2 separate regions of the Homo sapiens genome follow, and region 2 is linked to region 1. Evidence: fine-mapped expression QTL. Tissue or cell type: spinal cord. Region 1 holds a variant in brackets; the other region holds the start of a gene. All regions are shown on one strand. Distances are from middle to middle.

Region 1 (2,760 bases):
AGGTTCTGGTTTGGGGTTTTTTTTTTTATTTGTTTGTTTAAGTCTCGTTTCTGACACTTTCTGAAAGATGCAACATGGAGATAGGCCAGGAGGGAAACTAGTTTTAGGGTGTTCTCATTACATTCATTTTATGTCATTTTTTATTATTAGGTTTACATTATTGAATTCCTGTGGAGAAGAGGAGTCAGAGCTGTGAATAAGTCATAAGTCCCTATAGGTAAAATCAAGTACTATTTGTCTCTGATCAAAATTGCCCTTTCCATTGATAGGAGAAATGACTGGGCCTCCTTGTCATCCAGAGTTCATTTTGTTTTTCGTGGCAGTTTCACTGTCTTTGGGAATTGAGCTTTTTGAAATGTTAAAGCACGAGAAGCATGAACACCTTGGCAGGGTTTGCAGTATCTCCTTCTAGTGCAGGATGGAGGGCTCCAGAGCTGGCAATTTGAGGAATGGCTGGTGGCTTCTGATGTCACCTGCCACTCATGTGTCCCTCCCTGTTTTGAATCATGGATCTCAAACATCCTCAAAAGCTCTTCCCTGGTAATTTCAAAACTCTGAACAAATCAATCCTAAGAAAAAATAAACAAACATGCAGAAGAGCAGAAGGATATTTAGGATATGGTTCTAATTAAAATTTTTAAGTTTTCCTTTTTCAAAATCCTGTATGAGCTATTAAATAGGGAAAAACAAACTTCTGAGTAGGAAAGAAATAAAGGCCATTACCCTTAGAGATTTTGAATCTTACAATAAACAAATAGGTCTTCTTTTCCCCGAATGTTTCTTCTTATCAACACAAGGGAGTTGAGTGATGGCTACAGCTCTAAAATACTGAACATGGCTGCCTACTGAATTCAGCATACATACGTAGGGATATGTTACATAAGATGCACATACATACTTTATTTCTATTAGCCTGTGAAACAGTGAACATGCCTGCTCTTATAAAGCTTCTAGTAAAGGAACTACAAAAGAAACACATCTACTGGGCATTCTCACACTGGCTGAGGTAGGTTGGAACCATCTGGATTCTTGCCTGTGGCATAGTTAACCTCGTGACTATCCAGTTTTCCAATTATCCAGGCCCATTTACCTCTGCTCCCACTCAGCGAGCCCTTTGGCTATTTCTCTGTTCATTGGCACCTAAAGTCAAGGAGAAAGAAACGAACATTTATTAAGTGCTATGTTTGTACCAGTTAATCTTCTCAATGAAGTATTATTATCACCCCTGTTTTACAGAGAAGGAAACTAATATTCAAAGAGGTAAGATAACTTGTTCAGGACCACATATGTTTTTAAGTATAGAGCTCATGCATTATAAAGTGACCACCCTAGCTAACATTTATTAAGCACAATATTTGCCAGAATTCTTGCAAAAAGCCTTACAAGGACTATTTTATTTTATCCT[C/T]ATACCAACGGCTTAAGGATGGTATTACTTAAGTATTCTTGTTTTACAGATGAGGTCATACAGCTAAGGTGATGAGGCCAATATTCAAACTCAAGCATCTGGATTGCAGGCTGCACTTTTGATCGCCATGTCTAGCCTCCTCTATACACCTGCTCTGACCGATTTGGTATTCACCACGCCCAAGAGGCTACTGAACACCTGAAATATGGCTGGCTGGAGTTGTGATGTACTCTAAGTATAAACTACACACCCTATTTGGAAGACAGTATGCAAAAAAGAATATAAAAAGTCTCTTTGGCAATTCTTTATATCAATTACATGTTGAAATGATAATTTGGATATATTGGGATTAAAAATTATTTAATTTCACTATTTCTTTTTACTTTTTGAAGTGAGAAGACTAGACAATTTAAAATTACAAATGTAGTTCATATTCTATTTCTATAGAACAGCACTGCTATATACTATTTTAAAATAATATATAAAGGGGACTAGAACTGACTCAGGCCAACATTATTTTTCATCAATAGTTCTAGTTAAAAATTTGGTTGGAAGTGGGTGGATGGGAAGGTTGAAGCCCATTTTTAAAGATAAGTTTGGTGTTTTTATGAATTTGAGTTATGTGTGCTTTCTTCACCCGTTTTACCATGTGTGGGTAAGAGACTTGCCATTTTTAAGAATCAGAAGAATTCTGTGAGGTGTATTTCCAGTGTCTGTGTGTAGTGCTGCAGCTGTCTGAGCGTATTGCCGGAGGCACCTCCTTTGGACTTTAAGGCACGAATTGCTCATCACTGTCCACACAGCTTTGTGGCCGCCTTTGAGTCTATCTCTTTTAACATAACATTGAGTTCTGGCTCCAGGTCTGGCACAAAGTTGATAATAACTAGTGAATACTGTTTTGTTTGGTTTGTTGTAGTTTTATTCTTTTTTTTTTTTTGAGACAGAGTCTCACTGTGTCGCCCAGGCTGGAGTGCAGTGGCACAGTCTCGGCTCACTGCAGCCTCCGCCTCCTGGGTGCAAGTGATTCTCCTGCCTCAGCCTTTCGAGTAACTGGGACTACAGGCACACACCAGCATGCCTGGATAACTTTTTTGTATTTTTATTACAGATGGGGTTTCACCATGTTGGCCAGGCTGGTCTCAAACTCCTGACCTCAAGTGATCCACCCGCTTCGGCCTCCCAAACTTCTGGGATTATAGGCATGAGCCACCGGACCCACTTTATTCTTAATACCTATTGCCAGGCAGAGGTTACATGGATATAAAAGAGAGAAATTGGGAATATTTGTATGAGATGGGAAACCACAGGCCAGGAAAGCATTACCAAAGGGTTGTAGAGGATTTAGTCTGGGCCCC
Region 2 (2,500 bases), 52 kb after region 1:
GCCGGGGTCAGCGCCCTCGAAGTTGGGGGCCTCGGGCGGGGCCGCCGGGGAGCCACGACGGCCGCTCGACCAGAGCATCCCGCAGTCCCGTTCCCTCCAGAGGGGAAGAATGGCCGAATCTGGCACGATCCCACGGAGATCTCGCTCTTCCCAGCGCAGTCTCCGCTACTGAGCGCGGGACCAACGCAGGCGATGCCGGGCGGCCGACAGGGAAAGCCCAGACCTGGGGCAGAGAAGGAATGAGGGGCCGCCAGCCGGGGGGATTTCCTCCCGCTCTTCCCTCTCCAACGGGAGCGGAAAATGTGATTTGCTGTGCATTCCAGGCGCGGTTCCCTGGGGTGACCTCTCCCAGCCGGCCCGGGCGGGGGGAGCAGACAAAGAGGCGAGGCGGGCGGAGAGGGGACCCCGCGGGGAAGCAGGAGGGGTGCGGGGGGCGGGGGCAGTACCGGGAAAGGGGGCGGATAGCGGGTCTGGCGGCGGCGGCGGCGCCTGGCCAATGGAGAGGCGCGGCCCCGGGCGCCGCGCTCTGCCGCCGGCATTTAAACGGGAGACGGCGCGATGCCTGGCACTCGGTGCGCCTTCCGCGGACCGGGCGACCCAGTGCACGGCCGCCGCGTCACTCTCGGTCCCGCTGACCCCGCGCCGAGCCCCGGCGGCTCTGGCCGCGGCCGCACTCAGCGCCACGCGTCGAAAGCGCAGGCCCCGAGGACCCGCCGCACTGACAGGTGAGCGCGGACGCACCCGGCAGGGATGTGAGTGGGCGGAGGGAAGAGGGCCGCAAACCAACCCAGGACCCGCTCAGTTCCACGCGCGGCAGCCCTCCGTGCGCGCAGGCTCGGGTGCGTTGTTCGCGGGGGTGAATTGTGAAGAACCATCGCGGGGTCCTTCCTGCTGAGGCCGCGGACACCGTGACCTCGCTGCTCTGGGTCTGCAGGGAAACGTAGGAAAAAAAGTTGTCAGGAGCGGGCAGGATGACCCCCACATCCCGTTTCCACCTCCCGGAGGCCCCCGAACACGCTCCTGGTGCTGGTGGCAGCAGCGCCTGGCAGACGCGCCCGCTTAGCGAGGGCGCGAAGTCCAGGCCGCCAGAGCGCAGGAGCATCCGGACCTGCTAGTCGGCCGCTGACTGCGCGGCGAGTTGCCTTGAGAGGGTCCCATGTGCTTGGGGCGCCGCGCTGGGTCTGGGGGCGTCTTGGGGCGCCCATTGGAGTCCGCGGGTTGGAGCATCCGGAGAATCCATGATGTGTGCATTTGCCGATCCCCGAGGTGAGATGGAGACTGGCAAGGGCAGAGCCGCTGTGTTCAGCCACAGCGGAAAACCGAACGGTGGGTAATCCGACAGCTGCGGTGCGGGGCGCGGCCCTGGCCGCGGGGTCCAGCGAACCCGCAGTGCTCACAAGGCAGACACCACACGCGCTCGCGGACCGGCCACGCACTCGCGGGCGCTCGCTTCTCTACTCCAGCCTCTTCCCCGCCCCGCGCACGCCCGGGCTGAATGGTAGACGTTCTGGCGCCGGGCAGCGGCCACCGGCTGGTTCCCACTTCCGCGCGCACCCCTTAAACTGTGTTCTAGAGGCCCCAGCCTCGCCTTGCAGCGCCTCACTAGCTCCTGAGGACTAGGGACTGGCGGCTGAGGCGGGTTGGCGGCTGCAACGAGCTGGGCGTCTTTCGTTCTCTCTCGCTGCCTGGCTGGCTCCGCTGGCCCCTCCACAGCTTGCGGAGCAAGGCCATAGCAGGGGAGTGGGAGGTATATTGGGGCTGTCACCTCCTTGCTGGCCGGAGTTATTTGTAGACTACAGACTCCGGAAGAACAGACGCGCCACCGCTCTCGCTTGGCATTGCCTTCGGATCGCAGCTCCTCCTTGGGGGTGCCCCAGCTTGGCGTTTATTTGCCTGCGCCAGGCTCTGGCGACGGTCACCGGGCCAGGCGGGGAGGGACGGACGGCAGGTGACCAGCCTCTGCTGTGAAGAAATTCCTGCGCGCCCGGAGCTGTCCCTAATGCATTCCCGGGTCGAATCCGTCTACTGCCTTCCCCTCCTCGACCGACTCCGAATCTCGGCTCTTATAGACAGAAATACAGCCTCAGCGTTAGGGGTTAAAATCCCCCTCTTAAACGGTCCGAGGGCAGAGAGGTGACCACCGATAGGTAATTGGATCTCCTGCTGGAAAGAGCAAATCTGAGCGGTGTGCGCGTCTGTTTATGTTCCCCTTCGAGATGGTGCCAGGACACGAACTGATTAAAACAATCTATTGTGTTAAGTGGGTCACTAGGGTTTTAAGCTGTCCCAGGGACCCCAGAGTAGTGGCTTCCTTCTGGCTGTACACACAAGTTAAATAAATAGCGTAGAAGAGGTTAAGATAACCCCATTCTAGGGTGAGGAGTCCTCTTTCATCCCTAGGGCTTCCCCCTCCCCTTTTCTCTTTTTTTGGAAGGAGGGGGAGCATGAGAGTCTTGAGGGGGGGATGTACTTTTCAAAGCAAGGAGGGAAAGATCTTAAG

What was found. PIP is the estimated chance that this variant, and not a neighbour inherited with it, causes the effect.
Region 2: it holds the start of GREM1-AS1, and the variant in region 1 is fine-mapped to the expression of GREM1-AS1 in spinal cord (GTEx, PIP 0.96).

The regions. Positions count from the first base shown.
Region 1 is chr15:32,665,349-32,668,108 of GRCh38, forward strand. The region is part of intron 10 of ARHGAP11A-SCG5 (ARHGAP11A-SCG5 readthrough); the gene reads left to right. The region is part of intron 2 of SCG5 (secretogranin V); the gene reads left to right. SCG5-AS1 (SCG5 antisense RNA 1) reads right to left here. Exons shown (of 4, transcript NR_135505.1): 3 at 1,091-1,140; 4 at 354-569. LOC124903458 (a long non-coding RNA gene) reads left to right here. Exons shown (of 2, transcript XR_007064573.1): 1 at 1-217; 2 at 1,455-1,772. Among named protein-coding and RNA genes, the nearest start is that of SCG5-AS1, 6.3 kb to the right of the region's middle. The variant C/T (reference allele first, on the strand shown) is at 1,406.
Region 2 is chr15:32,717,437-32,719,936 of GRCh38, forward strand. GREM1-AS1 (GREM1 antisense RNA 1) reads right to left here and starts at 1,429. Exons shown (of 2, transcript NR_109767.1): 1 at 1,109-1,429; 2 at 665-928. GREM1 (gremlin 1, DAN family BMP antagonist) reads left to right here and starts at 568. Exons shown (of 2, transcript NM_013372.7): 1 at 568-725. RefSeq lists enhancers at 74-574, 712-1,290, 1,291-1,868.